Homo sapiens: one gene and its partner. The protein of the gene in region 1 interacts with the protein of each later gene in a pairwise test. Each region holds a gene or a part of one and is shown in the gene's direction. Other genes may lie near its edges.

Region 1 (8,724 bases):
GTACAGTGGCTCGATCTCAGCTCACTGCAACCTCTGCCTCCTAGGTTCAAGCGATTCTCCTGCCTCAGCCTCCTGAGTAGCTGGGATTACAGGTGCCCACTACTATGCCCAGCTAATTTTTTGTATTTTTAGTAGAGACAGGGTTTCACCATGTTGGCCAGGCTGGTCTTGAACTCTTGACCTCGTGATTTGCCCACCTCGGCCTCCCAAAGTGCTGGGATTACAGGCGTGAGCCACCACGCCCAGCCCCATGTTACTGATTTTTAATTGTTCTTTATATATTGTGGTTAAAGTCCTTTATCAGATTAATGATTTACAAATATTGTCTCCCATTCTGTGGGTTGTCTTTTAACTTTAATAATAGTGTCTTTTGAAGCAGTAAAGATTTGGATTTGATGAAATCTAATTTATCTTTTTTTTTCTTTTATCACTTATGCTTTTGGTGTTATATCTCAGAAGTCTTTGCCTAACAGGCTGGGCCCTGTGACTCACACCTGTAATCCCAGTATTTTGGGAGGCCAAGTCGGGTGGATCACCTCAGGTCAGGAGCTCGAGAACAGCCTGGCCAACAGGGTGAAACCCCGTCTCTACTAAAATTAGCTGGGCGTGGTGGTAGGCACCTGTAATCCCAGCTGCTTGGGAGGCTGAGTCAGGGAGGCTGAGTCAGGAGAATGTCTTGAACCTGGGAGGTGGAGGTTGCAGTGAGCCGAGATCACGCCACTGCACTCCAGCGAGAGTCTGTCTCAAAAAAAAAAAAAAAAGTTCATGAAGATTTACTCCTATATTTGCAAAGAGTTTTATAGTTTTACCTCTTACTGTTAAGTCTTTACTCCATTTGGAGTTAATTTTTGTATATGGTGTGAGGTGTAGAGATCCAACTTTATTCTTTTCATGTATCTATCCAGTTGTACCAGCACTGTTTATTGTTTATTGAAAAGACTGTTCTCTTCCCATTGAATTATCTTGGCATGCTTGTTAAAAAAAATAATTCACATATATAAGAGTTTATTTTTGGACTCTCAACACTATCCCATTTTTCTATATATTAATTCTTTTTTTTTTTTTTTTGAGATGGAGTCTCGCTCTGTCACCCAGGCTGGAGTATAGTGGTGTGATCTTGGCTCACTGCAACCTCTGCCTCCCAGGTTCAAGCGATTCTCCTGCCTCAGCCTCTCGAGTAGCTGGAATTACAGGTACTTATCACCAAATCTGGCTAAATTTTTTGTATTTCTAGTAGAGACAGCGTTTTGCCATGTTGGCCAGTCTGGTCTCGAACTCCCGACCTCAAGTGATCCGCCCACCTCGGCCTCCCAAAGTGCTGGGATTACAGGCATGAGCCACCACGCCCGGCCTCTATATGTCATTTCTTATGCCAGTACCACCACGTTGTTTTGGGGAGGGCTTTTCCCCAGCTTTATTGAAATATGATTGACAAACTAAAAATTATATACATTTGAGGTAAACATCATGGTGTTTTGATATAAGTGTACCTTTTGTAATGATTCCCACAATAGAGCTAGCTCACACATTCATCACTTGACATAATTACCATTTTTGTGTGTGTGATGAGAACATCTGAGATCTTAACAAATTTCAATTATTTTCTATAGTTACCATGCTGTATATCTCTAGAACTTATTTACCTCATAACTGAAAATTTTTAAGTACAACACTTTTGATTACTTTTACTTTAGTTTTATAGTACATTTTAAAAATGGGAAGTGTGAGTCCTCCAACTTCTTTTTTAAGATTGTTTTATTTATTCTTAGTCTCGTATTTCCATCTTAATTCATCCATAATAAGGATCAACTTGTTAATTTCTGCAAAAAAACAGCTGAGTTTTGATGGATATTACATTAAATCGATACATCAATTTGAGGAGTATTCTATCTTAATATTGAGGCTTTTAATCTATGAACATGGAATGTCCATGTATTTAGATCTTTAATTTCTTTCGATAATGTATGATTTTCATTGTACAAGTCTTGTATTTCTTTTGTTAAATTTATTCCTACATATTTATTCTCTTTATCCTATTTTGAATCAGTGTTTTCTTAATTTTATTTTCAGATTATTTATTGCTGACATATAAAAATACAATTTTATTTATTTATTATGTATCCTATGGCCTTGCCGAACTTATTTAGTCGTTCTAATTGGGGGGGGCGATTTATTTGTTTATTTATTGTGGAATCCTTAGGATTTTCTACATAGAGGGTTATGTCAGCTGATAATAATGTTTTATTTCTCCCTTTCTAATCTTCATGCCTTAATTTATTGTTCTTGCCTGTTGCTCTGACTGTAATATCCACAACTTTGACTACAGGTGGTGAGAGAAATCATTCTTGCCTTGTTTCCAATCTTGGAAAACATTCAAACATGCTCCATTAAGTATGATATTAGCTTTAGGTTTTTGTAAATCAGGATTTTTTGGTTTTGTTTTTTAATTTTTAATTTTTGTGAGTACATAGTAGTAGGTGTATATATTTATGAGATACATGTGATGCTTTGACACAGGCATACAATGTATAGTAATCACATCAGAGTAAGTGGGTATCTGTGTCCTCAAGCACTTATCATTTCTTTGTGTTAGAATTATTCCAATTCTACTCTTTTAGTTATTTTAAAATATACAATAACTTATTGTTGACTGTAGTCACCCTGTTGTGATATCAAGTACTAGATCTTATTCATTCTATCTAACTACGTTTTGTACCCATTAACTATCCCCACTTTTCCCTCCCTGCCCAATACCCTTCCCAGCTTCTGGTAATCATCATTCTACTCTCTGTGTTCATGAGTTCAGTTGTTTTAATTTTTAGCTCTCATAAATGAGTGAGAACATACAAAATTTGTCTCTCTCTGCCTGGTTAATTTCTCTTAGTATAATATCCTTCAGTTTCATCCATGTTGCTGTAAATGACAGGATTTCGTTCTGTTTTGTGTGTATATCTACCACATTTTTTTATCCATTCATGTGTTGATGAACATTTAGGCTGATTCCAAATCTTGGCTGTTGTGGATAGAGCTGCAGTACACATGGGAGTGCAGATATCTCTGATATACTTTTCTTTTGGATATATATGGAGCAGTGGGACTGCTGGATCATATGGTAGTTCTTCTATTTTTAGCTTTTTGAGGAACTTCCATACTGTTCTCCACAGTGGCTGTAATAACTTGCATTCCCACCAACAGTGTATGAGTGTCCCCCTTTGTCCACATCCTCACCAGCATCTGTTACTGCCTTTTTAATAAAAGCCATCTTAACTGGGGTGAGATGACCTCATTGTAGTTTGATTTGCCTTTCTGTGCTGATCAGTGATGTTGAGTATTTTTTCATATACTTGTTGGTTATTTGCATGTCTTTTGAGAAATGTCTATTCAGATCTTTTGCTCACTTTTTAATCAGATTATTAGATTTTTTTTCCTATTGGGTTTTGTTTAAGCTCCTTATATATTCTGGTTATTAATCCCTTGTCAGATGGGTAGTTTACAAATATTTTCTCCCATTCTGTGGGTTGTCTCTTCACTTTGTTGATTGTTTCCTTTGCTATACAGCAGCTTTTTTACTTGATGTGATCCCATTTGTCCATTTTTGTTTTGGTTGCCTGTACTTTTGAGATCTTTCTTAAGAATTCTTTCCCCAGACCACTGTCCCAGAGAGTTTCCCCAGTGTTTTCTCTTGGTAATTTTATAGTTTCAGGTCTTATATTTAAGTCTTTAATCCACTTTGATTTGTAAAATCAGGCTTTTATCAGCCTTTTATCAGGTTGGGGAAGTTTTTTTAATCATGATTGGATAATGGATTTTGCCAAATGTGTTTTCTGCATCTATCAAGATGATCAGATGGTTTGTGACCACATTCTACTGTATAGTGTATTATATTAATGAGTTCAGATGTTAAACCAACCTTCCATTTCTAGGATAAACTCCCCTTGATCATAATGTATTATCCTTTGTATATGTTGCTAGATTTGGTTTGCCAATATTTTGTTGAGGATTTTTGTGTCCATATTCATGAAGGGTATTCATTTGTTATTTTCTTGTGATGTCTTTGTCTGGCTTTGGTATCAGGGTAATACTGACCTCATAGAACAAGTGAGAGTTTCCTTCTCTATCTTCTGTTAGAGTTTTCAAAATACTCATGTTGTTTCTTCTTTAATGGTTTGGTAGAATACATCACTGATGCCATCTGAGCCTGGGCTTAACCTTGTATAAATATTTTTAATTACTAATTTAATTTTTTTACTTGTTATAGATCTATTCAGATTTTCTATTTTTCTGTTATTTTTTTATCACTATTTTTTTGGTATTTTTTATCTTTTTAGAGTGTTTTTCCAGTGCGTTAGCTTACATATGGGTAAGTTTGCTTCTTAACTAGCGTACACTTTCACTAGTTAAGAAACTAGTCATAATGGCTTCTTTTTTTTAACTTTTTTTTTTTTTTTCTGAGACAGGATCTTGTTCTGTCACCCAGGCTGGAGTGCAGTGGTGTGATCTCAGCTCACTGTAGCCTCCGCCTCCTGGGCTCAAGCAGTCCTCTCCCGTCAGCCTCCCAAGTAGCTGGAGAAGCCGAGCGCCACCACACTCGGCTAATTTTTGCAATTTTAGTGGAGACGGGGTTTTGACATGTTGCCCAGCCTGACCTTGAACTCCTCGGCTCAAGCCATCAACCCATCTCAGCCTCCCACAGTGCTGATATTACAGGCATGAGCCACCGTCCCTGATTGATGAGGTTTTTTATTTCCTAAAAGCCACTGCCCTGAGGGCCCCTGCCCCTTCCTCAGGCTCCCCTACATCTCTCCACAAGTCAGCCTCCAACGGTTCACACCTGGAAAAGCAGGGGACCTTCAGAACTGAGCTCCAGCCTAGTTGGCACCTATATAGATTGGTTGGCCCTCCTGCTATTTCAGTTATTATTTTGAACATCACCACTTGGAAGACTGAGACTCCACTTCAGACCTCTTCTTCCTAACACCCTGATCTGGGGCTGATTATGTGCTTTAACATTCTACTGGGCAGGTCTGGCAGAAGGAACAGTATCAACTGACTGAGTAGGTCTCATTGGCAGTTGTGATTCAGAGACCTAGAAAGCTGAACCCACGGCTGGCAAGAAGAGGATGGTTTGTGGGACCTGGGCTGATGTCTGATGAAATTTTAAGCCCCAGCTATAGCTACTACAAAGAAAAGTGGCTGATGATAAGCATGTAACTCAAAGTAAGTGAACTGAGAAGCATGTTTTTTGTTTGTTTGTTTGTTTGTTTGTTTGAGACAGTTTCGCTCTTGTTGCCCAGGGTGGAGTGCAGTGGCACAATCTCGGCTCACTGCAACCTCTGCCTCCCAGGTTCAAGCGATTCTTGTGCCTCAGCCTCCGAGTCGCTGGGATTACCAGGTGTGTGCCACCACACCTGGCTAATTTTTTGTATTAGTAGAGACAGGGTTTCTCCATGTTGGTCAGGCTGGCCTCGAACTCCCGACCTCAGGTGATCTGCCAGCCTTAGCCTCTCAAAGTGGTGGGATTACAGGCATGAGCCCCCGCGCCCTGCCTGAGAAGTATGTTTTTATGTTGAGGATGTTACTGTGTGATGCCACATACATTGAAACACATACATTTAAAGTAAGGCCACAGACTCAAATGCCTCTAGAAGCCAGACAGGTAGCATACCTCCTCCTTTCATTGATTCAGAGACGTACATTTTTTTTGGCATTTGAACATCTCTGAAATTAGAGTGAACGTTACAATTGCAAGTCAAATGGTGTATAAAAAAGCAGCATCTTTATAGTCAGTGGTGCTTTAGATTAGACGAAATAACAGAAAATGAGTGGTGTTGGCCAGGAAAATTATATCCTTCTCTGTTGGCCTTTCACTTTGAAAGAGAGAAATGGATACAGAGACCTACTTTCCTACAATAAGACACAAGAACAATGACAAATGGGAACGACTTTGCTGCCTTCATGTCCGGTAGCCAATAGGGATTGGTGGCAACAGGCAAACTGGAGAGTACCCTTGCCCCCAGGGCAGCTCCCCCTCTTCCCTAGCTGATTATTGCCTGTGGTGGCATAGATCTAGTGTTGACAAGTGTTCTGAGTTTTCAAAGGAAGTCAGAAACCCCAAAATCTACATCTTCATGTGAAACTCCTAATTTTAAAATGATGGCTCAATTTTTTTTAACTGGCGAAAAAAAATATATATATACAAGTTAGATGAGCCTATGAGTGCTCAGAATAAATATAACCTCTCTTTTAAGGATGCAATATTAAGAGGCAGCATGAGACAAACCAGTTTTTACAATTAAGCCAAAAAAGAAAAGTTAAATCCATTTCGAAGTTTAACACTAGGTTCAGAGGCCCAGAATAACAAATACTGCAGGGCCTCTTACTTATTTCATCTTTAAACTTTCTTTTCTGCCTCCCACTAAATGGAAGATAAGAAAATATAGTTAAATCTATTGAAGATGTTGCATTCCTGTTTATAAAAATGTATGATCACTTTTTAAAATGCAGGCTTAGGTTTCCAAAGCAACAGCATTTGCTTCCCACTGCTGTAGACTGTGGTCAGTGAAAGGCAGGATGATGTCATGGGAAACCCCCAAATTATGAGAAGACCAGGGTGCTAATTCTGGCTGTGTGATGTGCAACTGATTTAGGTTCATTTCATCGTCTTTATTTATAAAATGGGGATGATAATAGCTACCCTCTGTACCTTACATGGTTGTAAGGGCCACATGAGATAAAACATGTGAAAGTATAAAGTGTTATGTATATATTAGTTGGTATTGCCCAAATCACATGGGTAGTTGGGACAGCACAGGTTCTTGAATCTCAGATTCTCCATCTCTGGCTACTGCTCTTTCCCTAGACTGCAGCACCTGTTGAAATGGTCATCTTATCAGCCAGTGGGGTTGAACAGATGAGGAAGCATAAGGCAAGAAGTTATTAGAAAAAAGTTAGCCAACATCTTAGGATCTCAAATAGCACTGTGTCTCTGTACAACAGGGTGTAGGCAAAGCTTTCCTGTTAAATCTGAAGTATTGACCTTTAACGTTTTTATTTATTTATTTTTATTTGTTTATTTTTTATTTATTTTTATTTTTTTTGAGACAGAGTCTCACTCTATCACCCAGGCTGGAGTGCAATGGTGTGGTCTCGGCTCACTGCAACCTCCACCTCCCTGGTTCAAGTGATTCTCCTGCCTCAGCCTCCAGAGTAGCTGGGACTACAGGCACATGCCACCACACTGGGCTAATTTTTGTATTTTTAGTAGAGATGGGTTTTCACTGTGTTGGCCAGGGTGGTCTTGAACTCCTGACCTTGTGATCTGCATGCCTCGACCTCCCACAGTGCTGCTGGGATTACGGGCGTGAGCCACCATGCCCAGCCGACCTTTAACATTTTTAGGAGGTACCCAGGAATGAGAACACCACCTACATTGTAGATCAGCCTCTCTAGCATTCTCACAGTTTGACCTTTGGCTGATTCCTTCTTTCTCTTTTTCATATTTTTGTGCTATATAAGCTTTATGAGGAAATGAGTCAATCAAACTCTTAGCCTGAAATGAATGAATGCCTTCTTAGCCTGAAATCCAGCATTTTACTTTCCCCCTAGCTCAGGGTTTCCCAAACAATGTTTTTAAAGTGCTATTTCCATAAGATTTAATAGGTGCTCAAGAAAAAAGATAATCTCATGGTCAAAAAAAGACTGGAAAAGTGCTGTATACTGTACCCACTCTGGGATATTCACAAGGTATTATATTAAAGTTTTGAGAAGACCTGTTTACCCATTTATTTGATCACAGAATCCTCCTTTTGTGGAACCAATATTTGTGTTTACCAACTCATTTGATCACCTCTGTCAATAACCCTCCTCAATGGCATGTACGTTAATGTCTTGTGGCTCTGGTGTACTGCAGCAATTGGCTTGGAAAATGCTGTTCTATAGCCTCATTTCACATACACCAAATTGAACCACCAGCAGTTAGCCATGCATGTATTTCACTTTCCCACTTCCAAGCCTTTTGTAATTATTCACTCTGCTTGGGATGCTTTCTCTTCTCCCTTCTTGTTGTCTGGAGTCTTTTTAGCCAAACAAGCAAGGTCATTGCAGCAGCAATGATTCCCATTTCTGAAGTCTTAGCACTTGCCACTCTTCTAGCAATTTTAGCACCTAGTACTGTGCTAATGTGTACCTGATCTTTTTTCCTGCTCCATTTTACATTTCTTGGGGTTATTGTTTTCTGCGTAATACATTAGCCTGGTGCATTGTTTGTAGCCAGAATTCAGTAAATAGTTGTGGAATGAATAACTAAATGAGTTGTGGCCAGGTGCAGTGGCTCATGCCTGTAATCCAGCACTTTGGGAGGCCGAGGTGGGCTGATCACTTGAGGTCAGGAGTTCAAGACCAACCTGGCCAACATGGTGAAACCCCATCTCTACTGAAAGAAAAAAAAAAATTAGCCAGGCATGGTGGTGCATGCCTGTAATCCCAGCTCCTTGGGAGGCGGAGGCAGGAGAATCGCTTGAACCTGGAAGGCGGAGGTTGCAGTGAGCCGAGATCGTGCCACTGTACTCCAGCCTGGGTGACAGAGTGAGACTCCGTCTCAAAAAATAATAATAATAAAAAATAAATAAACAAGTTGCAATAGGATGAAATTTAAAATGTTATCTATAGTAGATAATGGAATTGGAGTTTGAAGAGGAGGAATGGGGAGGGATCTCTGAAAGCCTG
Region 2 (5,510 bases), on another chromosome or scaffold:
GGAGTTAGAAGCCACCATTCCTGCTCTTCCCCAAGGCGTTTCCCAGCTTCAAAGGCTCCCTTCAGGTAGAGGGAGGAAGTTTCACTTATTGTCTCCCCTGTCTGGGAAAGTGGCAGTGCAGATCATCTCTCCCAAAAAGAATGGATTTTTCCTGAATGAAGCAGCTGTCAGTAGGTTGCCAGGCTTGTTTAATGCTTGGGTGTTTTCAGGCTGTCTGGGAATGAGATTCTAGGATGACTAGCTGTTTAACCCTCCCAGAGAAGCAGAGGCTGAGAGAAGGGTTGGCAAGGGTGCAGGGTCCTTTGAGGCTGCTGCACACTGAGGAGGGGGTGCTCTGAGCTACTGTAGGGTTCATGTCCTGTAGACTTTCTGGGGGCCCTGGGGAGGTAAGGGTGTCTCTTCTCTCTCTGCCGCTCTCTGTTGTGTTTTGGTTTCTGCTTTGCTCTCTTTCTAGGGTTTGCCTTCTCTCTTAGCAGTTTCTCTTTCTTCTTTCCCTTCTTCCCCTCTTTTTATCACCATAACTCCTTTCTCTCCTTCTCTACTCCTTCCTTTTTCTCTCTGCCTCCTTACCTCACCCTACCTCTCTCCTATTATCTCCCCTCCCCCTAAGGGCTCTCTCTTTTATTTTCTTTGCCACTATTTCTTTTTTTTTTTTCCTCCATCTCTTTTTTATACTTGGTCTTTTTTCTTCACCAAGTTCATCTCTGTCTGTTTTAATATTTCCTTCTTGTTCTTTTTTCTCTGTTGTCTCTTTTTCTCTGTTTCTTGGCTATTTCCCTTTTCTGTCTTATTTGCTCTCTTGATAGGTCTATGTTCTATTTCGCTCTGTCTCCTTGTCTCCCTTCTTGCTTTATTTTTATCCCTAATGATGCAAAAATGCATTGGTGGCCTTGTTTCCTCATCTTCAGAAAATCCCTGGTTCTGTTTTCATGGTGACAACTCAGGGAAAATGGGGTTATCTTTCCCAGTTGGAGCCAAGAAGAATCAGAAAGTGCTGTGAAGTTTACCCTTGTTAGTCTATGGGGTAAACCACGCCCCATGAGAGTCGAGATGTGTGTGTTAGAGGCAGTTCTGGGGAGTCTACTTCCTGTTGCTAGGGTCACAGACCCTGCTCATTAATGCACAGAGACACACGCTCCTTCTCTTTGACCTGGCCTGGACATGACAGCACCTGTGACTCCCAGCAACCAGCTCAAACTATCCTCTCTTTTCACTTTGTTGGCCTGATTTCTCAGCAACAGGCTACCTGCCATGTCCAGGTAATGAGTGGTACCCCTGCCTTGTGCTCAATATAACCTTGTATCCTGGGGTTGCAGCATCCTACCTGTGTGCATAGGTCTGAGTGCCCTGGAGTCAGACTCCTGTGTGATGTCTGGAAGGCCACTTTCCCCCTCTGAGCCCTAGTTTCCTTATTTCCAAAAGGGAGATCATGACACTTAGCTTGCAGCATCATGTAGGGATTAAGTGAGGTGCTATGGGGAGATTCTCAGTGTTTGCATTCCCTCCTTCTTTGCTTCTTTTGCCATTCTAGATATTCCCCCACTCTTTTTGCTTCCAGGGGTGGGAGAGGAGGGGCACCTTGTTCCCTGCTGTGTATATGCTCAGGAAGAGGGAAGAAATTAATATTTATCAAGCACTTAGCATGCATTGTCTCAGTTAACTGGTAAACAGGTCTAGGTAGGTGCACAGCTCACATTTAGTTTCAGGTTGCTCTATCAGCAGATCTCAATATTAAAGCACTTCGTTTATTCATTTCTTTTCAGCCAACATTTATTGAGCCCTGTGCCAACCTCTGTGTTGTCTGCTATAGATACAGAGAAATAGAAAACAAGATCCTTACTCTCGAGGAGCTCAGAGTCTAGTGTGGGAGATAAATACCTAAAAGCTAGTTATGGCCAAGTGTGAGAAGCTTGAGGTCAGCCCAGGGGCCCTGGTTGCACAGGGGAGGGAGGGATGGACTGTCTCTGCTTCAGGATAATTGGGGAAGCCTTCATGGGGGAGGTGACAATAGGCAGGAGCAGGAAGTCACTTCAAGTCACAAGTAAGAGTATGAGCAAGGAGGAGGGGGTATAGCTCAGAGGTAGAGCATTGGGCTGAAGATTAAGAATATGAGCAAGGACACATGGACACAAAATAGAAATAGCATACTCATTGCTCATTGTGTGGGGAGCTGGGGAGTGATTTTATTCTGCCAGCACCTCTCTTTCCTGTTCATCCCCCTTGCCAGGTGTTGAATTTCTCAGTAGCAGAATCCCTGTCTACTTTTACAATATGTTCTCCCTCTCTTTTCCTCTTTTTTCCATAGTGCTTTCTATAGCACCTTGCTGAATTTATGGATGAATGAATAGTTCTTGCTGTTCTAAGGTTACTCTAGGGATCTGGAAATAATAAAGACCATTATTAAGATTATTAACAGCTTTCAGATGACATCTATCTTAGTGATCAAGGTGCAAATAAAGCTAGCTGACCAAGAGATGTGGTTGCTATGTTGACCAGGTGACCAAGATGGTGACTGAGATGCCAAGTGGCTAACATGATGATCAACCCAAATTGTCTGGTAAATGCACCACTTTCTGAAATGCACATTTCAGGGTAGGTGAAGGAAATACATGTACCTGACATGGCCCAGTCTGACACGTGTCACCTCTTCTGTCTTCTCCCCAGGCTGCTCTGCGTAGATTGGCTGGGGTCTGCCCTGAAGGCCTCCAGGACTCTGACTTTCAGCAGTTGGTCCAGCCTCGGCTGGTGGACTCCTTCTTACTCTGCAGCAACATGGAGGAGAGTTTTGTGTAGTGAGTGTGGGCGAAGAAATACATTTGGCTGTTCTCACACCCCCTCTGACTATGCACCAGTGAACACATCTGAGTACATACCAGCTCTCCTCATCTTCTTATTTATACTTAACTTATTTTTGTGTGAAATAAATGGAGGACAAAATCTTAGAGCAACATCATCAAACAGTCTTTGGTCCTTGAGAATCTTCTTTGTGTTTTATTTTTTGATTTCTGTAGCTTTTCAGTTGCAGATGTTGAAATTCGTAATGACAAATATGACAAATTGTCATGGGTGATTCCACTTCATCTTATTTTTTCTACTCTCACTATACAATCTTGCCTCATTTTTTAAAACTTTGGAACCAGAGGATTTCAACTGCCTAGCAAGTTTTTTTTTTAAGTTGGATTTGCTCTTCCCAAAAATCTAAAATGAATTTAATAATTGGGTAGAATATATTGGAAAGAAGTTTCTTTTTCTTTAATAAATGGAATCATATAAAATGTATCCCGGATTTTCTTATTAAATTGTATTTTAAACTAGGTTCTTGCTTCCCAGGTTTCATTCCCCAAAAACTTTTCCAACCATTAAAAGTACACACAGAATTGTCTTGTTTTCATAGGTGTATAAATAGGTTAAGTTCTGAGTGACTTAGTGAGAAACCAAAGTGACTTTCAAAAATACACCCAAAGGCACCAGAAACCCTGCTTCCTTTGGCTTCTTTGCTTTTGTGTAACCTCCTGTTCACCTCCTGGTGAATAGAATCCTCAGATGAGGCTTATTGAATGATTGATTCCTCCTCAAAAGTATACTTGAAAGCAGTGGTGTGCTGAAGCCAGCTCATGCCCACTCACAAGGGACAACTGTGAGAATTTCTTCCTAACTCTGCACTCAGTGACCTTGCGTTGGTAGCCATGAGCTACTTCATGAGCCCTCATGTTGAAATTGGCCATAGTGGGAGTATTTACACCACAGAAATTCACAGATGCTATAAAGCACAGCTTTCGCTTTTTTTTTTTTTAGAGAGAGCTGGTTTACCAATTTCACTGCTTGAAAGTATCACAAAAATCTGGGGATCCTTTTGAAAATATAAATGCCATCATATTGTGATATAATTTATACAATATAATATAATTGTGTAAAATCATGATTATAATAATGTTTCAATAAACATTTCTTAAATTCCCAATTACTAGTTTACATGAGTTAACCTAATGAACCAAGTCCTGGGCTAAGCATCTAATTTGCATTATCCAATTTATTCCTCACAATAATCACATGAGTATTAATTAGTATATTCATATATGTTATTACATATGATCAGGTTATTAAATTACTTGCACAAGGTCAGTAGCTAGTAAGTGGTGCTAGGATTTGATTCTGGCAATAGCTATTACCAAAGCCTTTGTGCTGAAGTCATATGCTATATACAAAGGTAATGTCTAGGTCCTCCCACCTAATGTGATGATGATTATTATTATTACGATAGAAAACACTTGTGCAACATTAACCAGGTGCCATGGACTTGTTTTATATTATTCTCAGTATAGATATTAACATTTACTACTACATACCCATTTTACAGAGAAGAAACAGAGGAAACTCATTTTACAGATACAACAATGGAGCTGAAGTAGCAAGAAAATGGCAGACCTTGGATTCAAACCAAGGTCTTCTGAGTCCTTATACAAAGCTTCCATTTTTAGAAATAAGGTATATATATATATATATATATATTTCACTGAGTTGTGCAGATTGTTCAGATATTGGCAACTTTCATTATATGATATCAACAGACAACTTTTGTTAATATCATTATGATCTCATCTGAAAAGTTTTTAAATATTGGGAAACTATCAAGCTTGAAAGCATAAATTTTGTCATTGGCAACAAATACTGTCAGCTGTTTCCCTTGAAGAGACGGACTCGCTTTGTTCATTTTTGAGAAAATATCTGCCAAACTCCTCAGTCTCAATAACCACAGTTTGTCAATTGTTCTTTCAAGTAAAGGTAGTGTTCCACAGAAAAAGCAACTAGTTGATACTGCAATTGAAACAATCACATAAGTGCCTTTCTCTTGAAACTGACACGCATTCTGCTTTGGCATACAGTAGAAGTGCCTGAAATGCAGTTCTCATATCACTCAGAATAGTTAAAATGGCATGTACCAGGGGTCAGAATTTAATACACTTAATAATTTTTACTGCTTCATCAAGGATATTCCTAAGTGGAATTGGCATTTTAAAAATTTAAGTGTGTGGCAGTGAAGAATACAATAACTGTAAGTACAATTTGGTGCCACTGCCTTGATCATATTAAGGTGCAATTTTACTTACCATTGCTTTTGCACCATTAGTGCAAATGTCAATAAGTGGAGAAAGGTAAATAACTTCTTAGTATTTTTATAAAAATAGTTTCGACCTCACAGAGCTCCTGAATGTGTCTTAGGACTCCCCAGAGATCAGGGGCCCTACTTTGAGAATCACTGATCTAGTTTAATACTAATTTTATGGTGAGGAAACTGAGGCCGGTGTTGAGGGGAAGCAAATGATTTTTCCCCAAAGCATACAGAATGAAGACTAAATCGCAGCCTTTTGCATTCAGGGTCAAAGTTCTGCCCATTCCTCAATATCAGGCTAGTTGGTCGCTAATATCACAGAACTGGAAGAGATTAAAGGAGAGTAGCTCTTCAGATAATATATAATGTTGAAAATTTCTACACTGCAACCTTTATTATG

Evidence for each region. The genes of interacting proteins can lie anywhere in the genome.
Region 2: the proteins of TTC23 (region 1) and INSC interact in binary tests that used the Homo sapiens proteins (3 or more experiments, as listed by UniProt).

The regions. Positions count from the first base shown.
Region 1 is NC_000015.10:99,237,858-99,246,581, reverse strand, and holds part of TTC23 (tetratricopeptide repeat protein 23), read left to right. Parts: intron 1-1,071; 5' UTR 1,072-1,193; intron 1,194-5,022; 5' UTR 5,023-5,217; intron 5,218-8,724. UniProt on the Homo sapiens protein: Participates positively in the ciliary Hedgehog (Hh) signaling.
Region 2 is NC_000011.10:15,243,248-15,248,757, forward strand, and holds the end of INSC (protein inscuteable homolog), read left to right. Parts: exon of another isoform or gene 1-493; intron 494-2,664; coding exon 2,665-2,793; 3' UTR 2,794-3,961; downstream 3,962-5,510. UniProt on the Homo sapiens protein: May function as an adapter linking the Par3 complex to the GPSM1/GPSM2 complex. Involved in spindle orientation during mitosis. May regulate cell proliferation and differentiation in the developing nervous system.